2 separate regions of the Homo sapiens genome follow, and region 1 is linked to region 2. The links come from fine-mapping of genetic effects on gene expression. Tissue or cell type: breast. Region 2 holds a variant in brackets; the other region holds the start of a gene. All regions are shown on one strand. Distances are from middle to middle.

The links. PIP is the estimated chance that this variant, and not a neighbour inherited with it, causes the effect.
Region 1: it holds the start of TRABD, and the variant in region 2 is fine-mapped to the expression of TRABD in breast (GTEx, PIP 0.96).

Annotation. Positions count from the first base shown.
Region 1 is chr22:50,182,460-50,192,475 of GRCh38, forward strand. TRABD (TraB domain containing) reads left to right here and starts at 3,454. Exons shown (of 10, transcript NM_001320485.2): 1 at 3,454-3,517. RefSeq lists enhancers at 1,166-1,741, 6,741-6,810, 6,861-6,910, 6,921-6,980, 7,196-7,810 and 4 more and silencers at 2,627-2,696, 2,887-2,986, 3,257-3,626, 3,893-4,202, 5,143-5,192 and 1 more.
Region 2 is chr22:50,210,767-50,225,518 of GRCh38, forward strand. SELENOO (selenoprotein O) reads left to right here. Exons shown (of 9, transcript NM_031454.2): 5 at 1-145; 6 at 4,951-5,101; 7 at 5,925-6,110; 8 at 6,206-6,362; 9 at 6,439-6,850. The coding sequence ends at 6,603. TUBGCP6 (tubulin gamma complex component 6) reads right to left here. Exons shown (of 25, transcript NM_020461.4): 11 at 13,745-13,826; 12 at 13,566-13,654; 13 at 13,375-13,490; 14 at 11,688-11,826; 15 at 11,262-11,336; 16 at 9,485-11,108; 17 at 9,191-9,249; 18 at 8,878-9,025; 19 at 8,522-8,690; 20 at 8,302-8,443; 21 at 7,937-8,131; 22 at 7,722-7,854; 23 at 7,423-7,636; 24 at 7,152-7,351; 1 more. The coding sequence ends at 6,970. Among named protein-coding and RNA genes, the nearest start is that of SELENOO-AS1, 8.0 kb to the left of the region's middle. RefSeq lists an enhancer at 8,829-9,471. The variant A/C (reference allele first, on the strand shown) is at 6,914.

The sequences.
Region 1 (10,016 bases), 31 kb before region 2:
GAGACGTCCAGTAGTCCTTGGGGGCAGCCGGTCTGCGTGGTGCTGAGTCCCGCAGGCCCTGCCTCCCAGCTTGTGAGAGGAGCTGTCGCTGCCCAGAAAACGTCTAGGCCGAGGTGGGGCTTGAGCTGAGCCGGGGGACACAGGAGGCCTCAGGTGGAGCCACCTGGAGACTTCAATGTGACCAGGGCCATGGGCAGCAGCCACACTGCCCATCCCCCGCCTGTGCGCCTCAGCCTGGCAGGAGGTATGAAACCAACTCCTGTCTGGAAAGAGGTTCATGCCTCAAGTGAGCACCCTGCCCTGTGCTGGAGCTGGCCCTCCCTCTGCGCGGCCCGTGCTGGGGAGCTGGTGTCCGTCCTACAGTGAGACGCTGGCTCCCACCTCTCCCAGGTAACATCACCACCTTATCCCCAGACCTGTTCCTCTGGCTGTGTCCTTGCCAGCTGTGCCACGTTCCTAGAGGCAGGCGGGCAGAGGCCTGAAAGGGTGGCGCTCACCCTTGGCACTGGGTCAGGGCTGAACCGGCCCCAACCGCCTTCCCCCATAGGGCTCCCTCCCTCCCCTTGCCCCAACGCCTGCTTCTGTGGGATCTGTCACTCTGCTCCGAATGGGACTTGGCCCTTCCTCAAGGTCCACCCCTTGAGGACAAAGCCAGCCGGGGACCAAGACGGTCCCTCCCAGCACAAATGGCTTCACACAGTTTGTTTCTGTTCCTGAGAGCCCCCACCCTCCCTAGGACTCCTCCTCACTCCCCCCAGGGCACCTCCAGAAACCCTCCTCTGGCTGCTCCAGGAACAGGGCATCCACATGGCCAGCCCCCCGGCGTCAGGGCCTCAAAAGCTCTGGCACCCCAGGTGCACGTCCTCCACCTCCACCTGACCCTCTTCCCAAGGCAACCCCGCCTGCCCCCCACGGCAGAAGGGACAGAGCCTGCCCAGAGAAAAGCAGGCTTGGGAGCAGAACTTTAGAAGACAAGCCCAGCCTGAGATGTGGGTGGTGGCCCAGGGCCTGCGGCTGAGGTCCTGCCTCAGTTTCCCCAGCACGCTCCCTGAGGACTCAATCTCCCCCTTTTCTGCTTCTCGCCCCTCACAGCCTAGTGCAGCCCTGCAGGGGACCCCAGCCGGATCGGAGGGCAGTTCTGCTTCTCCACTGTCTGCTGCCCACCGGGGGCTGGGATCTCGGACACTCTCCCCTCCCCAACTGGCCACCTTGCCCAGGTGAGTCAGAGGGTCGTTCTGCAGCCCGGGGGCCAGCGTTGGTTTGAAATAGTGCCCCCTCCTGCCCCTCCCCCTCCCTGAGCATAAGCAGGCCTGGCAGGTGGATAGAACCGTCCCTCTCATGGAGAAGGAGGGGCTCCAGGAGGACCTTGCACCCATCCCAGATGGCCAAGACTGAGAACCCAGGCCTCCAGCCCCCAGGCCAGGGATCTTCCCTCCACACCAGCCCAGCACTGAGAAATGGGTGAGGTGGAGCCGGGGCGACTGCCACCCGCTGCCCTCCTGTGAGGATGTGGCCGAGATGGTCGGAAAGGCAGAATGACCACAAAGGCAGCGAACAATGAGAATCAATGGAGAGGATGTGAACCAGAGGCCCTAGGGCCCAAAGTGAGTGTCCTTCACCAAGGAGGACAGAGGCCTCTCTAAGGCCAGGCCTGGCCATTTGGGGACCAGGAAGCTGTAGGAGGGGGCGGGGCCTCTTGTGTAAGAATGCTCAGTGGGCAGCCAGCCCAGCCTGCTGCCGTGTGGACAGGCATTTTCACCCATCCGCCCCACCCCGGGAGGACCACCTGCAGACTCAGGACCAGGGACCTGAGGGGACCCCTGCAGGCCACCCGAGCCGGGGCAGCTCCTCAGAACCTGGGGCTGGGGCCGGGGCCTCCCTTCCTGGAGCCTGGAAGGAAGCAGGCTCCCCAGCACGGAGTCCTGGTGGACGGCCTCAGGCAGACCCAGACCAAGCCTGGGCGCTGCGTTGGACTCCCCCAACCCCAGGCCTGCTGGGTCAGCCTTCCAGGCTCGCTGAAGGTTCCTGCGTGGGGCAGCCCTCACTGAGGTCCTCCCCGTGGCTCCAGAGAGGAGCTAGTCCTAGGGCACTCGAGTAGAGAGGTGCGCCCTCCTCCCTCTTCTAAATGGTTCCCCAGCTGGCCCCACCTGGCCCCTTTCCCCAACTAACTCATCAGTGCCTGGCAGGAAGACACAGCAGCCCTCCCCCGGTGACTGGAGTCCTGGCCCCAGGGCAGGCCCCGCTCCAAGAACCTGATCCTTTGGCTGGGGCAGGGCCGTAGAGGTGGGCGCAGAGCTTCGGGGAGCTGGCTGTGGGGTCCGCGCATGCAGCCCGCAGGCAAACCATTGCCAGGCCCACGCCTGCACTAAGCCCAGCGCCAGCGCCAGGTCAGCCAAGAACCCGGGGTCGTGGAGGAGGAAGGAAGTCGTGGGCCCGGGATGCGCGGCCGGACCATTGCAGGAGAGCGGGGCAGGCGGACGGCGCAGCAGCTTGCGGGCAGCGAGTCGTCTGCATGCGGCGGCGAAGCGCCCGGGCCCCCGTCCGCGCCGGTGCCCGCAGCGCGCAGCAACTTGGCCGCCGGGTCCCGGCCGCCCCGGTAGAGGCTGGGTACAGCGAGGGGGCCGGGCGCCCGGGCAGGACGGGCGCGGCGGGTGGGGCCTGGCCGTCTCCCCCTGCCCTCGGGGCCGAACACGCACAGCGAGAGTCTAGCGTCGGCGTGGCTGCGGCCAGCCGGGTCCCCCTGGAGGCCTCCGGACGATCGGAAGTGACTGAGCGTCCGGGTCCGTGAGGCCGGGGGTCGGCCCGCCCTAAGACTCCCACCTGGTCCCGGTTCTCCGTCCGCTAGGCTGGCCGCGGGGCCCCTGGGGCCCGACCTTCCCGGGGTGCCCCAACCTGCGGCAAGGCCGAGGTCCCGCTGAGGCATGAGTCCCGGGTCGGGGACCGCTCTGGGCCGACCCCCGGAGGACGGACTAGGCCGATCCCCAGAGGGAAGGGGGCCAGGCCGAGGCCATGGCAGCGCGTTCCCTGATCCCGTGTTCTCGGCTCCTCGCGTCCCACTATCGGCTGTCCCTTTCGTGCGGGACTGACGGCTCACAGAACAGTTACATTTCAATATCATTCGACTGAAAACCATCCTGTGGACGCCGTGCGAGCATTGTCCCCATTTCACAGCTTGGGAGCTGCGACCAGAGAACGTGGGCGCGCCTCGCAAGGCCGTGACCGCGGCGGGACTCGAACCCTCCCTCCTGAGTGCGCGCCGATGTTCCTTAGGACCCGGGAGCGCCGGGGGGGGGGGGGGGGGCGGGGGCCCCGCGCGCTACCCCCTGGGAAGTGTAGTCCGAAGTTGCGGGCCGGGGCCAAGCAGGAGGCGCGTGGGACTACACTTCCCGGCATGCCACGCGGCCGCCGGCGCCCTCGGCCCGTCCGCCCCGCCCCGCCCCGCGGCCCCAGCCCGCCCCGTCCGTTGAGGGCCCGCGCCGCATGGAGGCCGGCTGAGGAGCGCCGCTGCCTCGCCTCGGTACGCCGCGCGGCGCGGACGGCGCGTGCGTGAGGACGGGGCCCAGCACCGAGCGGGGGGCGGGCCCGGGTCAGGGCCGCGGGGTGACTGTGGGGGGCGGGGGGAGCGAGCCCGAGTCGGGGGGTGGGGGCCGGGGGCGGGGGGGGTCAGGCCCGGGTCAGGTTTTGGGGCCGGGGTAGCAGGTCGTGGGGGTCAGGCCCGGATCAGGTTCAGGTTTTGGGGCCGGGGGAGCAGGTCGTGGGGGTCAGGCCAGGGTCAGATTCAGGGTTTGGGGCTGGTAGACCAGGGTCGTTGGGGGCCGGGCCCGGGTCAGGTTTGGGGGCCGGGGTGGCAGGTCGTTGGGGGGGCCAGGCCCGGGTCAGGTTTTGGAGCCGGGGGAGCAGGTCGTGGGGGTCAGGCCCGGGTCAGGTTTGGGGCGGGAGCAGGCCCCGCGCGTCCCCTGCCACCGCTGCCGGGAGCGGCGCTGCCGAGGAGCGGAGCCCCCCAGGGCTGGGGCGGGGAGGGTCAGCGGCGGCCTCGCGGGAAGGCGCGGGTCGGACCTCGAGTCCCAGGGTCCTCGCGGGTCGGGAGGGCCCCAGCCACCCCCGCCTGCCGCCTGCGGTGGAGCCGGCCGAGGTGAGAGTGGAGGAAGGCGGCCCAGGCCTGCGGGTCTCTGGGGGTGCTGGGGGAGGCCGAGCGGGAGGCCCCGGACCCCCGTTGTCCCCTCCGGCCCCGCTGAAACCTGGGGCTTCGCTCTTCTGTAGGTGCCTTTGCCCTTCAATTGGAGCAGAGCGGGGTTCCCATATGGGCGAAGTGGACGCCAGATCGTCCCCCGCTGTGCGCAGCCCAAACTTAAAAGGTCTTTTTAACTGAGCTATCATGAAGCTGCCGTGTGTCTTTGTCAAAACTCTTACAAGAAAGATGGAGTGGGAGCTGTCTGGGCACTAGCGTCCCAGAAACAACCAGGAACTTGTGGAGGTGCTAAGCTCCCTGCGGGGACTCCCGCAGCCTCGGTAGCCTCCAGATGGAAGCCTCCTAGCTTTCAGGTCCCTGAAGAGGCCGTGCAGGCCGCCAGGCTCACTGCGCTGTGTGTCTCTGCTCCCCGCTTGCTGCCGCCGCCCTTGCAGTGTGACTGGTGGGGATGCTGGCCAGCCTCGCCGGAGGCCCTGATGCTGTGGGGTCCGAGGAGGGGGCCTGGCAGGGTGGGTGGGTGGCAGGAGCCTGTGGGGCCCCCTGCATGGTGGTCAGTGTGGGGGCTCTGCATTGACTGTGACCAGGTCCTGGGAGGTTGGGGGCTGCCAGGTGTGCTGGCAAGGAGGCCTCGGGCTCTGGCTCAGGTGTGTTTCCCGTCTCCCAGCTCTGCCACACCTGCGTGAAGCGGTCCCGCCAAAGCCGGGAGGGGTTTCCTGTGGCCAAAGGTGCCAGGCATCAGAAACAGGAAGCAGGGGAGGTCAAAGCTCTGGGCCACACCCTGGTCCCTCCAAGTTTGTCATTTCTGCAACCCCCAGGTCTGACCAGTTTGGAACCTGGGCTTTCTGAGCCGGTCTAGTGGGTTGGTTGAGAGATGGGGGTTTTTCTGGTAACTGCATTTGGTGCTAGCCAGTTTTTGGTCTGCACTAGGAAGCTAGGCTGCAGTCTGGGAGGCAGTTTCTAGTGGGGTGAAGGGGATAAGATGGGTGTCTTAGCTCTAGCTGCTGTAACAAAGCATCACAGACCAGGAAACTTTAAAAAACAGCAGGCTGGGCTGGGTGTGGTGGTTCACGCCTGTAATCCCAGCACTTTGGGAGGCCGAGGCGGGCAGATCACGAGGTCAGGAGATGGAGACCTTCCTGGCTAACACGGTGAAACCCCGTCTCTACTAAAAAATACAAAAAATTAGCTGGGTGTAGTGGCAGGCGCCTGTAGTCCCAGCTACTCGGGAGGCTGAGGCAGGAGAATGGCGTGAACCCGGGAGGCAGAGCTTGCAGTGAGCCGAGATCATGCCACTGCACTCCAGCGTGGGCAACAGAGTGTGACTCTGTCTCAAAAACAAAAATGAGGTCTTGGCCTGGCGCAGTGGCTCACACCTGTAACCCCAGCACTTTGGGAGGCCGAGGCAGGTGGATCACAAGGTCAGGAGTTCAACACCAGCCTGGCCAAGATGGTGAAACCCCATCTCTACTAAAAATACAAAAATTAGCTGGGGGTGGTGGCGCACGCCTGTAATCCCAGCTACTCGGGAGGCTGAGGCAGGAGAATCGCTTGGACCTCAGGGTGGGGGAGGTTGCAGTGAGCCAAGATCACGCCACCGCACTCCAGCCTGGGCGACAGAGTGACACTCCGTCTCAAATAAAAAAAAAATGAGGTCTCGCTAAGTTGCCCAGACTGGTCTTAAACTCCAGACCTCAGACAATTCTCCTACCTCAGCCTCTCCTGAGTAGCTGGGGCTGTGAGCGAGTAGGCTCCTCCCACCATGCCTCACTGGTGCTGGGAAAAAACTTAACAGAAATTTATTTTCTCAGAGTTCTAGGGGCCGGACATCCCAGATCAAAGGTGCTGGTCCCTGGTTGCCATGCAGCCTCCTGGCTTGTAGACGGGCCCCCGCGGCGTCCTTACCCGGGGGAGCAAGAGCTGCGTGGCGTCTCTTCCAGGAGTACTAACCCCGTCATGGGGGCTATGCACTCATGACCTCATCCGAACCTGATCACCTCCTGGAGGCCCTGCCTTCTAATACCTTCATAGTGGGAGTTAGGGCTCTAACCTGTGGGTTTTGGGGGACACAGTTCAGTCTGTAGCAGTGGGACCTGAGCAGGCAGGTGGGATGCGCTGTCTGAGGCTCCCACTGGATGTCAGGTCCTGGGACAGAAGCCCTGCGGGACATTTCGGATGCAGACAGCCGTCTCTGACGCCAAAGGACTGTAGATGCCGCTCTGATTTTGTGTCCTAGGGCCGCACACCTCAGGCAGAGCCCTAACGGATGGGCTTTTGCGCACAACAGATGTCCTCCTGGGGCTGTTGGGAATTCTCAGAGGCTTCGTCTGCACAGAGGATCATGGTTTCCAAAGCCAGATATCCCTTTTTACAGATGAGGGACAGTGCTTGGAGAACAAGTGTCTTCAGAGGCAGTGTCTAGGGTCTCCTGAAATCGGGCTGCTAAGTCTTTTCTTGCCCTGTGGGTCTCCACCCCGTTCTCTGCCTTCGGGACAGACTGTGCTGCGGCAGAGAAGCTCGAGGCCGAGGCTGACCGCTAAAGCAGCATCTGAATGTGGCTTGTGCTTGCAGCCCAGAGAGGGCCTCCTGTGTGGGGCAGGTGGGATGCTGGCCCTGGAGGCAGGTTCCCGCCTTAAACGGCGGCTCCTGCCCAGAGCATCCTGCCCAGGGTAGCACTGGGGTCTGAGATCTGAGGACCCTGTCTGCCGGCTACCCATGCTCAGGAGGCATGTCCCACAAATCGTGTTCAGCACCCACCCCAGTCCTGCTCGGTGGACGTCCGTGCGGGGCAGGGAGAGTGAAGCACAGCTGGTCTGATACAAGCGTCTGGCTTCCTGCCAGGCTGCACCGCTTCCCAGCGGGTTGGCCTTGCAGGTAACAAGGCCAGAAGCCACTGCGAGGTTCCCTGGGGCAGTGCCAGCACTGGGGATTTGGGAAGGAGAGATGTCTGTCCCCCCGGAGGGGCAGCCAGGGTCTGCTGGTCTCTGCTGATGGGCCTGAGCGTATCTGAAAAGGACAGGTAGAAAGGGGGTGGCTGCAGCGTGCGCTGGCCGGACCCCAGGTGATGCTCTGCTGGGACCCAGAGGGGGTGGCTGCAGTGTGTGCTGGCCGGACCCCAGGTGATGCTCTGCTGGGACCCAGAGGGGGTGGCTGCAGTGTGTGCTGGCCGGACCCCAGGTGATGCTCTGCTGGGACCCAGAGGTTGTGGGGCTGGGAACCAGGTGGGGGTTCTTCAGACATTGTCTCTGAAGACACTTCAGAGTCCAGGCTCAGCATCTGTGGCTTTTGGGCCAGGGCCTTTTGCTCACCGCCAGGCAGCTGGGAGAGGCTCTGGGCCCAGCCATAAATGTCTGAGAGCACAGCTGCCTGGGAGCAGACTAGAGGGAGGAGGGCTGGTAACCTGAAATCACACCCTAGAGCTCTCCAGGGGCCTTGGCGAGGAGGGAAAGAGAGTGTTGAGACTGTAAGAGTGACTGTCAGAGACGTCCCCCAGAATCACGGGCTTTAGGTGCTGGGGGGTCCTCAGTGACCTTCCCGCCTGGCTCCCTGCGGGCAGCACGCCTCTGCTGAGAGGCTGCAGGGGCCAGGGCTGGGGGCTGGCACTGCCTCTGGTGGCGCTGACATCGTCCTGCTCAAGGCTTGGCAGCCGGCCCAGGAAAGCTTCTCTGCCCTCCCTGACAGGAGACCTGTGCACGCCCACCCCATGGCACGACTGGGGTCAGGACCAGCGCCTGCTGCTGCACCGAGACCCTGCCCTGTCCATGGCCACAGGCGTACCCTAGGCCGGCCTCAGAGGCGGGTCTGGCCAGGCTGGGTGGAGGGTGGGGGCTGACCGCAGACCTGGGGCTGCCACACCCATGGGGGAAGGGCTGTGGCGACGTGGGCGCCTCCTGTTGGCTGGGCCGACGCAGCCTCCCGCCCGGCTGCACAGGAGTTTCTTTAAGGAGTTTCCCCGGTGTGCCTCGGCAGCCTTGCGCTGCTCTAATGGTCCGGACTTCCGTGTGTGAGTTTCCCCCGTGCGCCCCGGCAGTCTTGCGCTGCTCCTAAGAGTTCTGGCTTGTGTGTGTAGCTAGACCCAGGGAGGCGGCCGTCTCCCGGACCGGGTGCTTGTCTGGGCTGGCTGGCCTGGCGGCTGCTCACAACAGCTTCCGGTGGGTTCCGGTCGGGTTGCATCGTGGAGCTTTCACCTACAAAAGGGGAAGGAGGCGGCCCAAGGGTCCGGGGCCTGGTCCTGCTGTGACCGGTGCCAGCTGCACTTCCTGGATGTGCCAACCGCTAAGACGCCCAGGCCAGGGTTGGGTCCAGACTCAAGCCCAGGTGGCAAGGAGTGGGACCCCCTGCCAAGGCTGTGAGGCCCCATAGGGGAGCCTGCCTGTGGAGCGGGCCCCCCTTGCCCTCTGCAGAGGCTCAAGGCCCCCGGGGACATGAGCCTGGTGTTTATCAGCTGTCTCCTTAGTCTCAGCTGACCTCCCCCGACCATGGCCCCATTGCACCACCCACCCCAAGCCAGGCCAGTTCCTCTCCCAGAAGTCCCGGCTGTCCAAGAAGAGGGCAGGGTGGGCTGCCCTCTTCTCGGCCAGCTTCAGATGGGGCCTCTGGTTGCACTGAGACAGGCCTCTTCCCCTGCTCAGAGCCGTCCCTGCTCCCCCAGCCCCTGAGCTGCCCTCCTAGACACTGCACAGAGAGCTCCTTCCTGTTCACAGGTTAGGACACCCAAGCTTGGAGGCATCTTAACTTGGATGTGGGTGGCCAGGACCCAGCTGGGTCTGTGAGTCCTGGCTGGGGCCGAGGTCTGTGCCTGCTGTGGCTGTGTGCCAACAGGGTTTGCAGAGGAAAGGAACCTGACATAGCGTCTTATTGCTCATTGTTCCTTTTTCTTATGAGTTCTGAGAAGTGGGCAGCAGTAGTGACATGAAAATGACCCCAGATGCACGCAGGCATCAGTGCAGAACCCGGCAGTGGCCCCTCTGAAGCACATCCTACAAGCCCCGTCGTTTCCTCGCCAGATGCTCGTGTCTGACTGACGCAGACGCTTCAAGACAAAACCACAATACCTTGCACGACTAGACAGCTCAGAATGGTTTCCAACGGCTCATTTTTATTTTTTACTTTTGTTTTTTTCTTGAGACAGAGTCTCCCTCTGTCACCCAGGTTGGAGTGCAGTGACAGGATCTCGGCTCACTGCAACCTCAGCCTCTCGGGTTCAAAGTGATTCTCCTGCCTCAGCCTCCCCAGTAGCTGGGATTACGGGTGTGCACCACCACGCCTGGCTAATTTGTGTATTTTTGGTAGAGATGGGGTTTCACCAGGATGGTCTATGTTGGCCAGGCTGGTCTCGAACTCCTGAGCTCAGGCAGTCCATCCACCTTGGCCCCCCAAAGTGCTGGGATTACAGGTGTGAGCCACCGCGCCTGGCCTGTTTGGGATATTTTAATGATTCTGCCTGGTGACACATCCATCCGCCAGGACATGCATGAGCCATTAACTTGGTAAACAGTCACTCCTGGCATTCCGTGGCTGAGAACATTCAGGAAGAGCCACATGGTGCAGCAGGGCCTGTGGCCAGTCTCAGGACAGCCTGCTGGTCCCTGGCCCCGCCTCGAGGGGCTCCGCGCAGGTCTCGCCGATGCTCTGTGGGTCTTGGCCGGTGCGTGCCTCTGGTGCTGCAGGCGCCTGGCTGTTTTCTTCCTTCCCTCAGGCTCCTGGGCCCCCGGCCTGAGCTCCTGGTTTCTGAGAGTCTGTGGGGAGCTGTGATGCCTCGGGGCAGCCCCCTCGTGTGGCTGCCCCAGCCTGTCCGGGTTTCTACCGTGGTTCCTTCCACACCATGTTT
Region 2 (14,752 bases):
GAGGCCATCCTGGCCGAGGAGTTTGACGCCGAGTTCCAAAGGCACTACCTGCAGAAGATGCGCAGGAAGCTGGGCCTCGTGCAGGTGGAGCTGGAGGAAGACGGGGCGCTGGTGTCCAAGCTCCTGGAGACCATGCATCTGACCGGTGAGTGACCCAGCCGTGCCCACAGCAAGGCGCCTCCCGTGCTGTTGTGCTTAGAGATGGTTTACCTTCTGGCTTCCAGGTTCCAAGTGCACAGTCACTCCCTGGGCCCACCCCAGCCCTGGCACCCCCATTCTACTCTCTGTCTTTATGAATTTGGTGAATCTAGGACCTGCTGCGAGTGGAGTCATACGGTGCTTGTTCTGTAGTGACTGCTTATTTCACTTAGCATAAGGTCCTCAATGTTCACCCAGGTCCGTATCAGGATTTTATTCCATTTGAAGGCTGAGAAGCATCCCGTTGTGTGGACAGGCCGCAGTTTGCTTATCCACGACATACTGGCGTACGTGTTCCTCTTCTGGCTGTTGCGTACGGTGCACTGTGTGTTGTGTGCCGTGCTGCCATGAAAGCGAATGCAGAGATCTCTGACTCCCTGCTTTCAGTTCCGTGGGGTGTACAGGTGGTAGGATTGCTGGGTCGTGTGGGTGACTCACTGGGTTGCACTAGCTAGGACGTGTATGTTGAACAGAAGGAGCTGAGATGGGCATTCTTTTCTTGTTCCTGACCTTCGGGGAAAAGTGTTCAGTGTTTCACCCATTGAGTGTGATGTTAGCTGTGGGCTTTTACCATGCTGAAGTTTTCTTTCAGAATGCTTTTACCATGAAAAGCTATTGCATTTTATCAAATGCTTTTTCCTGCAATGAAGATGGTCATGTGGTTTTATTATTTCATTCATATCTCCTTGCATTCTGGGGATAAATTTTACTTGGTCCTTTTAATATGCTATATGATTATTATTTTTAATATTTTTTGAGACGGAGTTTCACTCTTGTTGCCCAGGCTGGAGTGCAGTGGCACGATCTTGGCTCACTGCAACCTCCACCTCCTGGGTTCAAGTGATTCTCCTGCCTCAGTCTCTCAAGTAGCTGGGATTACAGGCACCCGCCACCACACCCGGCTAATTTTGTATTTTTAGTAGAGACAGGGTTTCGCCGTGTTGGTCAGGCTGGTCTTGAACTCCCGACCTCAGGTGATCTGCCCACCTCAGCCGCCCAAAGTACTGGGATTATAGGCGTGAGCCACCGCACCCAGCCATATGCTGTATAATTATTTTAATATGCTGAATGTTGCGAGTATTTTGAGGATTTTTGCATCTGTATGCGTAAGGGATACTAGCTTAGAGTTCTGCTTTTTCTTTAGTGTCTGTTTGGCTTTGATGTCAAGGTGGTGCTGGCCTCAGAGTGAGTTAGGAGGTATGCGCACATCTTCCATTTTTTTCCTTCAAAGTTTGAGAAGGATTGCCATTTGTTCGTAAGAGTATTTGGTAGAAATCACCAGTGAAGCCATCTGGTCCTGGGCTTTTCTTTGTTGGAAAAATTTTGATTACTGATCAGTCTCCTTGCTTGCCTTACCTCAATTTAGATTTTCTTTTCTTCTTGAGTCAGTTTTGGTAATTTATGTTTCCAGGAATTTTCTGTGTCAGGTAGTTTGTCCATGTCTTGTAGGTAATTTTGGCATATAATTGTTCGTAGCAGTTTTTTACAATTTCATTGTGGTAGGAACACAACATGGATCTATCCTCTTAAATTGTGGAGGGCACCGCACATCACAGCTGACGCAGGAGCAGTGCTGTACAGCCGAGCCCTGGAGCTTGTTCACATCCGCCACCCAAACCCTGTGTGAGCCGGTTACCAGCTCCCCATTCCCCTCCCTGCAGCCCCTGGTAGCAACCACTCCGCTCCGAGTCTGTGAACCTGACTGCTCTAAACCCTTCATGTAAGTGGAGTTACACAGCGTGTGCCTGTTTCTTCAGTCTGTTGTCTCCCTCTAATCTTCGTGTAAGTGGAGTTACGCAGCGTGCGCCTGTTTCTTCAGTCTGTTGTCTCCCTCTAATCTTCGTTTAAGTGGAGTTACGCAGCGTGTGCCTGTTTCTTCAGTCTATTGTCTCCCTCTAATCTTCGTGTAAGTGGAGTTACGCAGCGTGTGCCTGTTTCTTCAGTCTATTGTCTCCCTCTAATCTTGGCTCTTCTTTCTCCAGTTCCTTAGGCGTGAGTTGAGGTAACTGATTGGAGATCTTCTTCAGTGTAGCCATTTACACTGTGCATGTCTTTCTGGTCACTGCTTTTGCTGTGTCCATCAATTTTGGTATGTTGTGGGTTTTTTTGGTTTTTAGACGGAGTCTTACTCTGTCGCCCAAGCTGGAGTGCAGTGGCATGATCTTGGCTCACTGCAACCTCCGCCTCCCAGGCTCAAGTGGTTCTCCTCCTTCAGACTCCCAAGTAGCTGGGACTACTGGCATGCTCCACCACACCTAGCTAATTTTTGTACTGTTAGGAGAGATGGGGCTTCACCATGTTGGCCAGGCTGGTCTCCAACACCTGATCGCAAGTGATCTGCCTCAGCCTCCCAAAGTGCTGGGATTCTGGGGATGAGCCGCCGCGCCCAGCCAGTGTGTTGTGTTTTTAAGTGATTTCTAGCTTCATTCCATTGTGACTAGAGATGTCAGCCTTTTGAGGTTTATTACAACTTGTTTTGTGGCTTATCTTGGAGAACTTTCTGTGTGCCCTGGAGAAGACGGTGTGCTCTCTTTTGCTGGGCAGAGCGTCCTGTACCCGTGTGCCCTGGAGAAGACGGTGTGCTCTCTTCTGCTGGGTGGAGGGTTCCGTGTATGTGCCTGTTTGGTCTTGTTGGTTTAGGCTGTTGTTCAGGTCTTCCATTTCTCATTGATCTTCTGTCTGGATGGTTTTTTTGTTTTTTGAGACGGAGTCTTGCTCTGTCACCCAGGCTGGAGTGCAGTGGCGCGATCTCAGCTCACTGCAAGCTCCACCTCCCAGGTTCACGGCATTTTCCTGCCTCAGCCTCCCGAGTAGCTGGGACTACAGGCGCCTGCCACCACGCCCGGGTAATTTTTTTGTATTTTTAGTAGAGACGGGGTTTCACCGTGTTAGCCAGGATGGTCTTGATCGCCTGACCTCGTGATCCACCTGCCTCGGCCTCCCAAAGTGCTGGGATTACAGGCATGAGCCACCGCTCCCAACCCTAGATGGTCTATCCATTATTAAGTGGTGTGTTTAAGTCTCCAACTCTTACTATAGATAGAACTGTTTGTTGTCTGTCCCTTCCATTCTGCCAACGTTTACATTTTTGGGCTTTCTTATTGGGTGCATGTTTATAATTTTTACATTTTTATTGATGAATTGACTCTTTTATCCATATATAATGCTGTCTCTTGTAACGACTTTTTGTTGAGGGTGGATGTGTCTCACTTTGTTGCCCAGGCTGGAGTGCAGTGGCACAGCTGCGGCTCACTGCAGCCTCCACTTCTTGTGCTCTAGTTATCCTCCTGCCTCAGCCTACCAAGTAGCTGGGATTACAGGGGTGAGCACCTTTCCCGGCCCTTCTGACAATTTTTTATTTAAAATCTTCTCTGGCCGGGCATGGTGGCTCATGCCTGTAATCCCAACACTTTGGGAGGCCGAGGCAGGCAGATCACCTGAGGTCAAGAGTTCGAGACCAGTTTGGCCAACATGGTGAAACTCCATCTCTACTAAAAATACAAAGATTAGCCAGGCATGGTGGTGGGTGCCTGTAATCTCAGCTACTCAGGAGACTGAGGCAGGAGAGGCGGAGGTTGCAGTGAGCTGAGATCACGCCACTGCACTCCAGCCTAGGCAACAAGAGCAAGACTCCATCTCAAAAAACAAAAATTAGCCAGGCATGGTGGCGGATGCCTGTAATCCCAGCTACTCGGGAGGCTGAGGTAGGAGAATTGCTGGAACCCAGGAGGCGGAGGTTGCAGTGAGCCGAGATTGCGCCACTGCACTCCAGCCCCGGCAACAGAGCAAGACTCCGTCTCAAAAAATAGAAAACTTATCTGCTGTGAGTTTAAGAGTCGCCTCAGCTCTCTTTAGGTTACTCTTTGCCTGGGTTTCTTCATCCTTTCACTTCCAGCCTGTTCGTGTCTTTGAACGTCTTGCAGATCGTGTGGTGACAACATGGAAATCGTCTTTTCACCCACTTTGCCAATCTGCCTTTTGTTGGAGCGATCAGTCCATTCGCTTTCAAAGCAGTTACTGAGGGGGAGCTTCTGCCATGTTTCTGGTCGCTCACGTTCTCCCTTGCTACCTTTGTGTGTAGTCGACTTTTTTGCAGTACGTTGCTTTGACTCCCTTCTCATTTTGTTTTTAAGACAGTCTTAGGGTCACTGTGGTTTCAGACAGTGTTTTCCAGAGTCAGGGGGAGGATCGCAGTGTCTGTCACAAGTTGGGCCTTTTGCAGGCGGGTTACAGCAGCTTCTCAACACTCGCTAGCTCCCAAAGCAGGCAGTTGTGACTGTGAGGATGTGAGGGCCGGGCAGCAGCCTCTGCCTTCTCAGTATTAGGCCACTTCACAGGTGACTTGGAGGGTGAGCAAATGGCAGCTGCCTGGGCGGTGGATGGGTGGAGGCTGAGGAGTGGGGTGTGGAGGGCTCAGGAGTCCCAGGACCAATGCTGAGCGGGGCTTGTGTGGCACCTGTGCTGGGGGCAGCATTTGGGTCCGTGTGGGTCTCTGTGGCATGCGTGCCAGGTGTGGGTCCGTGTGGCACCTGTGCTGGGGGAGGGTGTGGGTCTGTATGGCACTGTGCCAGGTGGAGGGTGTGGGTCAGGGAGCGTGTGGATCCGTGCTGGCGGTGGGGGGCGGTGGTGGAGCATGTGGGTGGGTCCATGCAGCACCTGTGCCAGGGGGGTGGGGGGGGGGGGGTCTGTGTGGCACCAGGACAGGGACCCTGGGCCTTCTGCTTCCAGCTCCCTGAGCAGCCTGTGTTCCAGGTGCCGACTTCACAAACACCTTCTACTTGCTGAGCTCCTTCCCAGTGGAGCTAGAGTCGCCAGGCCTGGCGGAATTCCTGGCCAGGCTGATGGAGCAGTGTGCCTCCCTGGAGGAGCTGAGGCTGGCCTTCCGGCCCCAGATGGATCCCCGGTGGGTACTCAGTTCCTACTTCTTTGGATTTGTTTCCAGAAAAGGAAGCATAATCAGAAACAGAGGCTGGGGGAGAAGCTAGAGACAGAGCTGGCTGGGGCCCAGGTGGCTGCTCCGCTCCCAGGGACAGATTCAGTCAGGGCTTCAGGGCATCTCTGCGATGCTGGGGCCGGTTGGTCACAGAGTAGAGAGTGGCGAGGCTGACACAGGTGTGGGGGCAGACAGTGGTCTCTGCTGTGGGTGGGCTTCAGAGAAAGCCTCTGGGTTTCTAGGGAGAATGGGCTCCCAGAGGTCAAGCTTTCCCACACCATCTTCCAAAGGGAAGGGCTGCCCTGTCTGAAGAGTCCCGCCCACGTGCAGGATGAGACGTGGAAAATATTGTTGCTTTAACTTAAAAAACAAGACCAGTGGGGTTGGCTGGGAGCACCGGCCAGCAGGCCCTGCTGAGCATAAACCCCCTCCACTGGAGAAGGCGTGGCCCCTGCCCACCTGGACCCTTCTGGAAATGAGGGAAGTGCTAACAGCAGTGCCCATCCCACAAGCATTAAACTCGGGAGGTGGAGACTCTCCAGCAGAAAGCTGGGCAGCAGAGTGGTCCTGCCCCTCGGCCCACAAAGGGCCTTGGCCGAGCATGGGCATGCCTGGTGTGTGCCCACTGGGGTCCATCCCTGCCAGTGGGGTTCCAGGGACCTCGGGGACCGGGCTGCTTGGGCCCTTGGACTCTAGGTGAGCCGTGAGAGCGGGCTGGGGCAGGCGGAGCAGCTGCCTGCAGGGCAGGGACACGGTCAGGGGCTACCTCCCAGACACCCTGGCCTCTCCACAGGCAGCTATCCATGATGCTGATGCTGGCGCAGTCAAACCCGCAGCTGTTCGCGCTTATGGGCACCCGGGCAGGCATCGCCAGGGAGCTGGAGCGTGTGGAGCAGCAGTCTCGGCTGGAGCAGCTGAGTGCGGCAGAGCTGCAGAGCAGGAACCAGGGCCACTGGGCTGACTGGCTACAGGCGTACAGGTGAGCCCTGCGTCCATGGTCACCGGGGGACGGCGGGTCGCGTGCTGGAAAAAGTCCAGCCCGGCTGTGACTCCAGAGCCCGGATGTCATTCCAGAGCCCGGCTGGACAAGGACCTGGAAGGCGCTGGGGACGCTGCCGCCTGGCAGGCTGAGCACGTGCGCGTGATGCACGCCAACAACCCGAAGTACGTGCTGAGGAACTACATCGCGCAGAATGCCATCGAGGCTGCCGAGCGCGGGGACTTCTCAGAGGCAAGCACACGCCTGTCCCTGTGGTCCCTGGGAGGGGGGTCGGCCCCAGACCCCTCTCACCCTCCTGATCCTCCAGGTGCGGCGGGTGCTGAAACTACTGGAGACCCCTTACCACTGCGAGGCGGGGGCCGCCACAGACGCCGAGGCCACGGAAGCCGACGGGGCGGACGGCAGGCAGCGCTCCTACAGCAGTAAGCCCCCGCTCTGGGCAGCAGAACTGTGCGTGACATGATCTTCGTAACGGCCTCGGCACGCTCCACACCCCTGGAGTCTCCCGAGGCCCCCATGTGCTGCTGAGTGGCCAAGATGATGCCAGGCTGCCCTATACACTGGGGGATTCTGCCCTGGCCCATGCACACCCGTCTTTCCATGATGGCAGAGACATCCAGTCAGGACCTGACCCGTCTCTGTCTGAGGCCGGCTCAGCAGTGCAGCCTGGTCCCTGGGGGCTGGACCCAGGCTCCTAAATAAACCAGCAACTCCCTCGAGTCTGTCTCTGTGGTCATTGTTCCCCCACCCTGCCCTGTCCTCAGCCCCCACCCAGGAGAGAG[A/C]GCTGCAGACAGGGTCCGAGAACACCTTTATTGTGCACGTCCCCCGCAGAGCAGCCTCAGGCGTCCTGGTAGTAGTTGTTGAAGTTGATGCGCAGCAGAAAGTCCTCCAGGTGGGGCTGGTAGCCGCGGTTCACCAGCTTGGTCACCACTGGGGACCAGCGAGCAGCTCAGGCTTTTGCCCACAGTGTGAGCCCCGCCCTGGCCCCCCCGCAGCCCTCCCAGCCAGGGTGGGCCTCACCTTTGAAGAGAAAGTGGGAGTAGTACTTGAAGGTGTTGTAGGACTGCTGCATGAGTGCAAAGTTGGGGTGCTCTGCACCCCGCGGGCCCCCAGGGGGCCCCCAGGCCTGGGAGATGAGCTGGCTGCGGAACTTGAGCACGAGGCTGAAGATGCTGTGGATGACGTTCATGACGGGCGCCGCCTTCTCCGTGAGCAGGCCCCTGGGGGGAAGCAGTGCTGCTGGGTGGGCTGAGCCGTGACCACAGGGACGCAGCCGCTGCCCAGGCCTCACCTGAAGACGGCCTTGTGCAGGTACTCTGCGTGCGCACGCTGGATCTCCTCCAGGTCGCCCACGGTGGCCAACCTGGCCCTGAACTCGCACCAGGTGACGTGCAGGATCTGGTTGGCGATGTAGCCCTGGATGACCTTCACGAAATGCTGCATCTCGTGCTTGAACAGCTGCAGCTGACGGAACTGCACAGAGCCGGCCATGTGGCTCAGCAGGGCTGGCGGAGGGCAGAAGGCAGAGGGCAGAGGTGAGCGCAGCCTCCAGCCAGGGGTGCGGGGCGCCGGGCTCCAGCGGGGCCTCACCTGTGCGCTTGAGGTGGAAGCAGACGTCCTTGAGCGCCCACATCATGAGCTTCAGCTGCAGCAGGAAGGAGAAGACGCCGCTGTACTTGCTCACGCAGCCCTCGGTGATGACAATGTTGAGAGGCCAGTCCACCTGCCAGGAGGCGTGGCTCAGCAGGCATCCCACAGGCAGGCAGGCCCCTGTCCCATCCCCCGCGGCCAGGGCTGCTGCTGACCTTGTACCTGAGCTCCAGGCAGCTCAGCACATCCGGGGCGTTGGGGGCAAACACCTCGGGCAGGTACTTGAGAGCGAGGGAGAGGTTGGAGGCGTGCGGGGTGTCCCCATGCAGGCTGCACTGCAGGGCCTTGCTCAGCACAGAGTTCAGCACCAGCGGGTTGAGCAGCTCTCCGGGCGTTTGCCCAGCTCCAAGCTAGGCAGAAAAGGGACCACCGTCCCCAGGAGTCCCAAGCACATGCCTGGCACTCGCCGGCACCCCATGGGGCTGTGCCAGAGCAGCAGGGGGCTGTGGGCGTGCAGCCAGTCTCTCTTTTCCCACGGCCTCCCCTCTACCACTGGCCCCACCCCGTGTCCGGAGGCCACCTTCTCAAAGAGCAGGTCGCTGAGGGACTGGGCGAACTCGCCGTCCTCCATCAGCAGGAAGTGCCGCAGTGCCTCATAGTGCGCCTCCAGGTGCAGCTCCACGAAGAAGTAGTCGACAGCGGCCTTGTTCACCAAGGAGATGCTGGCAGGAGGGAGCTGGAGTCAGGGCGGGCCAGGACGGGCTGGGTGGGCAGACTGGCGCAGGGGCAGGGGCACTCACTGGGCGGCCAGCGGTGCCGTGATGGAGCGCTTCATGAGCACGGGCAGCGTCAGCAACTCGCTCAGCTGCACAGCAGTCTCATCAGCGGCAGACTGGACCTGGGGGTCCACGGGGAAGGCGAAGGCCCGGGGAAGCACGGGGCGCAAAAGATGAGCAATGGGCGGCTCGGCTGCGGGAGATGGAGCACGCACGTGCTGGGAACCGGCCAGCCCAGGGCTCCGCCCCCATCCACAGGAGATGGAGCACGTGCTGGGAACTGGCTAGCCCAGGGCTCCGCCCCAACCCACAGGAGGTGGAGCACGTGCTGGGAACCAGCCAGCCCAGGGCTCCCTGCCAACAGCAACTGCTGCACTCACACATGGACTCGTAACTGTCCGGGTACCGCTCCAAGTGGTACTGCCCTGCCAGGCCTGCCAGGTAGGCCTGCTCCCCACCCTGAGCCTCCGCCGCCGATGCCTCCGCCTCCTCACCACGGCCTGGGCTGCTCTGGGCAGCTGTGTCTTCCTAACAAAACACCAGCCTCAGAACCACCTCCCCACTGCACGCTGTCCCCACAACCAGCTTGTGCCAAAAAAAGGAAAATCGCATGTGGGACCCACCCGCGTGACAACCTAGAGGGACAGAGCCCTCCCTGCCTGCTGTGGGACCCCCAGGCTGCATCCACCTAACCTGTGAGTTGAGAGGCCAATTTGGAGAGAGGTCCTCAGTGTCCCCGCTCCTCCCAGGGCCTGTGTGGACACAAGTGGACACGAGGGCATCAGGGCCGAGTGCCTGTGGCGGGTACAGAGCCGAGCCGGCCCTGGCTCAAGCAGCCCCTCCCATGTCCCCCACAGCAGCCCAGGTCCTGGCTGACAAGGAGGCCTGAGGGGAACTTCACATGCCACCAACCCCACTGCCCGCCTACCTCCCAGGCTCTGTGCGTCCCACAGTCCCACTCCTGACCACCAGCCACCCTACTCTGACCTAGTTCTTCAGAGACACTGTCTCCCGGGGTGTTGGGCCACCATGGTTGGGTGGGAGCCACGTCTGACACGTTCTCCCCCACGCTGATGCTCCCCTCCCCGCAGCCCGAGCTGGGGGAGGACAGAGATGGCCCCACTTCTACAGGCAGCCGTGGCCCACAGTCCAGCACAGTGCTCTGTGCTCCCAGGCTGAGCGCTGACTGGGACGTGTGGCCAGGGGGGCTCTGTTGGGGCCTGGGTGTGTTGGGCTCAGCTTCTGGTGAGAGAGCCCCCAGCACCATGTGGGGCGGAGGGATGGGTACATGGGTGTTCCACCGTGGCCGGGTGGAAACCACATCCGACACAGGCTCCCCCAAGCTGATGCTGGCGTCGGACACGTGTCCATGGGTGTTGCACCGTGACCGGATGGGAGCCACGTCCGATACGTTCTCCCCAACCCTGATGCTGGTGTCAGACACATGTCCGTGGGTGTTCCACCGTGGCCGGGTGGGAGCCATGTCTGACACAGACTCCCCCAAGCTGATGCTGGCATCAGACACGTGTCCATGGGTGTTCCACCGTGGCCGGGCGGGAGCCATGTCTGACACAGACTCCCCCAAGCTGATGCTGGCATCGGACACGTGTCCATGGGTGTTCCACCGTGGCCGGGTGGGAGCCACGTCCGACACGTTCTCCCCAACCCTGATGCTGGCGTTGGACACGTGCCCGTGGGTATTCCACCGTGGCCTGGTGGGAGCCACATCTGACACATTCTCCCCGACCCTGATGCTGGCGTTGGACACATGTCCATGGATGTTCCACCGTGGCCGAGTGGGAGCCACATCTGACACAGACTCCCCTAAGCTGATGCTGGCATTGGATACGTGTCCGTGGGTGTTCCACCGTGGCTGGGTGGGAGCCACATCTGACACATTCTCCCCGACCCTGATGCTGGCGTCAGACACGTGCCCGTGGGTGTTCCACCGTGGCCGGGTGGGAGCTATTTCAGAAGCGTAGTCCCCTGTGGGAAGACCACCCCCTGACACCTGCCCAAAGAGCCGCTCTGTGGGCTGGCTGCTCCCCTCCTCCAGAGCAGCACGCCTGGGTGGGTGTGAGGGGAGCAGAGTCTCCCGCGAGGCGGAGCCACAGGCATCCATCTTCCCACAACTGTCCTCCCACAGCTGTAGCCCTGAGCTGCCCAAGCTGCACTCTGCAGCCTGCAGGGGCCCTGGTGCAGGTGAGGTGGCCACAGCTGGCCTCAGGACAGTACTAAAGTCGTACTCCTGTGGCCTGGAGGGCTGAGTGCTGGCTGCTGCGGGTGCCTCCCCAGGAGCTGAGGGGGGCAGGTCCAAGTTAATGGTCTGCAGCGCCACCTCCAGGAGAGGGACCATGCCAGTCTGCACGGACGGCTCAGCCCCTGGGCCCACAGGTAGGAAGTCTCCAATGCTGAGGCTGTCAGAGAAGGGTCTGGCCCCCTCCGCCTGCTGCAGCCCCCTGCCACCAGCCCCCACTGCTAGAGGCTTAAGGGGCTGTGGGGTCAGCAGGCCTGGCCTGTTCCAGCCATCCCAGGCAGGCGAGTGTTGCTCTGCAGACCCAGAATCACAGCCTTGGCCTCCCTCTGGGTGCTCAGGGCCCGGAGACGTGACCTGAAACACAGGTGACATCAGACCCAGTCTGGTCTCAGGACCCCCCAGCCCTCGAACTGTCCCCCAAGTTCAGCTCTGCAGCCATGACCAACACCAGGTGCCGAGGGCTATGGGAAAACCATAGGGCACCCTGGGTTCCACTCTGCCGCTTACCTGGGGGTGCACGCTCAAGAGGACGTCTGGCGGCTCCTGGGGCTGGTGAGCCTCAGACACTGCTTTCAGCATCTCCTGAAATTCAAGCCAGAGGGGTGACTGGCCAAGCCGGAGTCAAGCACAGCCCTACCCCACACAAAGCCACAGCCCCTACCGCCCATGGCAGCCATGTGCACTGAACCAGACAAGGCTTGTGCTGGGCTCCAGTGGGACGCTGGGCCTGCAAAAAGTACTCCAAAACCACGAGCTCCTCACCACCTGTATCTGTGCAATTTGGTGGCACACGGGGAGAGAGAGTGCTCTGCCGCAAACGCGAAAGCCACCAGCCCTCTCCTAGAAGAGCATGTAGGTTTGTGTGCAGTCTCAGGGGGTTTCCAGACCCCCAAAGCCCAGGGGAAGAGCTGCCATCTGAAGCCGCAGACATACCTGAATGTGTTTCTCATCTTCTAAGAGAAAACGAAGCCGTGCACTCTCCAGTCGGTGCCTCTGGATTCTCCACAGTGCCTTCTGCTCCCGACGAGCTGCCTCTGCAGAGAGCTTGCTGTAGTGGTCGACCAGTGCCTGCCTGAAGCCACACACCAGAGAGGACACGGCCACAAGAGTCACCCCACCCCATCTACCTGGCACCCCTCAGGCCAGGATGGTTCTCCATAACAGAGGCCCCAGTGGGCCCCCGCCCCCGTCTCCCCCTACCAGGGGCTGATAGCTCTGGGCCCTCACAGCACCTACAGGGCAGCACCAGGCAGGCCCTTCTACCTGCCAGGCTGGGAGACCCTGGTGAGTCAGCGTCCAGCCAGGGCTCAGCAACATCTGCTGGACAAATACCAGAATGAGATCCTGTGTGGCCTGAAGCAAGGGGTGAGCAGGAGGCCGAGGGCCCCAGGCCTCTAAGAAGTTAGGCCTCTTCCCCTTCTACAGGTACAAACCTGAGAACTGAAAACTAATGCAAAAAAGCACATGAAGCAAAACCAACACAAACGCTTTATTTGCTGAATTCAAAGCCTGCTTCACCGATCGTGCCCCATGATTTTGAGCTTCTCACCAGCAGGCAACTGGGCTCAAACCTGGACTGGCCAGCTCTAATTTGGCTGCCACAGGCCAGAGACGTAGTGTCTAGGCCTGGTTTTCTCCATGTGTTAACAGGACAGTATCGACTGACATACATGCATGAACACGTACTCATGCATAAATGCATACACGGACACACGTGCACACAGGCACGCGCACCCCTCCACACACATCCCTCACTCGCTCCATAAAGAGATCTAAGGTTGGGACCTACAGCATCGCGTGGGGCTGAGCAGGAAGCGGCCAGCCCCTCCCGTGAGGGGCTCTCTCCAAAACCCCAAACAGCCCCTTGAAGGATCCAGCACTACTCAGCCTGGGACAGCCTGATGACAGCACAGGACAGGTTGATAACAGCACAGGGAGACAGACGCAGATGCTGTGCTGGACAAATGCCCTGTCTCAGCCGAGCGCGGTGGCTCGCGCCTGTAATCCCAGCACTTTGGGAGGCCGAGGCAGGTGGATCACCTGAGGTCAGGAGTTTGAGACCAGCCTGGCCAACATGGTTAAACCCCGTCTGTACTAAAAATACAAAAAACTAGCTGGATGTGGTGGCGGATGCCTGTAACCCCAGCTACTCAGGAGGCTGAGGCAGGAGAATTGCTTGAACCTGGGAGGCGGAGGTTACAGTGAGCCGAGATTGTGCCACTGCACTCCAGCCTGGGTGACAGAGCAAGACTCTGTTTCCAAAAAAAAAAAAAAAAAAAAAAACGCCCTGTCTCTGTCAGACCAATAACAGACTTAAAAATAAATAAGGAAGGATGTTCAGAAAGAAGATAAATAAAGAGACAGGACCCCAAACAGTACGCAGGCCTCGCCTGGACCCTAATCCATACAAACCACCACAAGACAACGCGCAGAACAGCTAAGGATGCCTGGATAAGGCAGAACGCCCACAGCCACTCTGGGTTCAGCATATTGGTCTTTCTACCTTAATGTATGTTTGAAGGTTTTCAAAACAAAAAGTAAAATCATCAGTAAGATTAAGCCAGAGCTATGGGGCCCCTGCCGCACTGCACCCCTGGGCCTGGAGCCCGGGCTGCCCTACCTCGCCTTCCTCTCCAGCTCCTCCTCCAGGGACTTCAGCCTTCTCTCCCTGTCTCGGAGTTCACGGGCGTAGCTGAAGTCATCATCCAGCTCCTCCTGCCTGGCCGCCTGGCGTCGCTATAAAACACATAGAGCCTGGCCTGTGAAATCAGAACTGACAGGCGTGACCCCGCAGGGACAGGTCCTACCCACCTCCTGGTCCTTCACAAATTGTTCTTTCAGCCTCTGAAACTGCTCACGCTTCCGGGCATCCAAGGCCATCCGTTCTGACATCTGCCGGTCTACATTGGGACAGTAAGGGGCGCACTGTCACAAGGAGGCCCCAGCAAGGCCCCCCGGAACTGCAGAAGGGAGGACTTGGGGCCACTCACCACTCAGTGCACTCAGGACCCTGGATGCTGCTTCCCGGGCATGAGCGATTAATTCTTGTTTTGCAATTTCCATACGTAATTCCTGAGAAAGACAACTGGTAATCAAAGCATCCTGGCCGGGCGCAGTGGCTCACGCCTGTAATCCTGGCACTTTGGGAGGCCGAGGTGGGTAGATCACATGAGCTTAAGAGTTCAAGACCAGCCTGGACAACATAGCAAAAACCCATCCCTACTAAAAATACAAAAATTAGCCAGGTGTAGTGGCAGGTGCCTGTAGTATCAACTATTTGGCGGGGGTCAGGGGAGCTTAGGCAGGAGGATCCCTTGAGCCTGGGAGGTGGAGGCTGCAGTGAGCCATGTTCGAGCCGCTGCACTCCAGCCTCCTGGCTGACACAGTGAGACCCTGTCTCAAAGAAAAAAAAAGCAACCTAATCCTCTGACCCCTCACCTAGGATGCCCAGGACACCTGTGGACTCAGGGCCGGCAGGGGAGACACATGGTCCAAGGGTTCGAGGAGGGACCAGGTGATGGCAGGACACCGCCCCCCCGCCCACCCTCCCCCACCCCCAGGCTCTCAGCAGTGGCAAGGCTGGTTCCAGGCCATGGACGGGAGCTGACCGGCTCTCACAGAGACATCTGGGGCTGAGGACCCCAAGGCTGTGTGTGCCCACCCTGGAAGGAAACCAAGAGGCCTCAAGAGGGGGCTTCCCCGCTCAGCCTCTTAGGCCTGCCCCTGCCCAAGTATCCCTGCTGCCCACCAGGCACCAGGCCAGAAAGGGTGTTCCTGGGAATGGCACTGATTGTACCACCGAGCCCCTCCCAGAAGACACAGGAGAGGCGTGGCCCGTCCCTGACACACTGTCCCTTCCCAGCAGGAAGGGGGCTTGCAAAGGGCGAAGGCCATCTGGAGTGCAGCCAGGACTGTCTGTCCACAGCTGGCGGGCCCGGGGAGGCCCCAACGGAGTTTCCCACGCCAGCAAAGCCTGGGCTTCAGGCTGAGCCACCCAG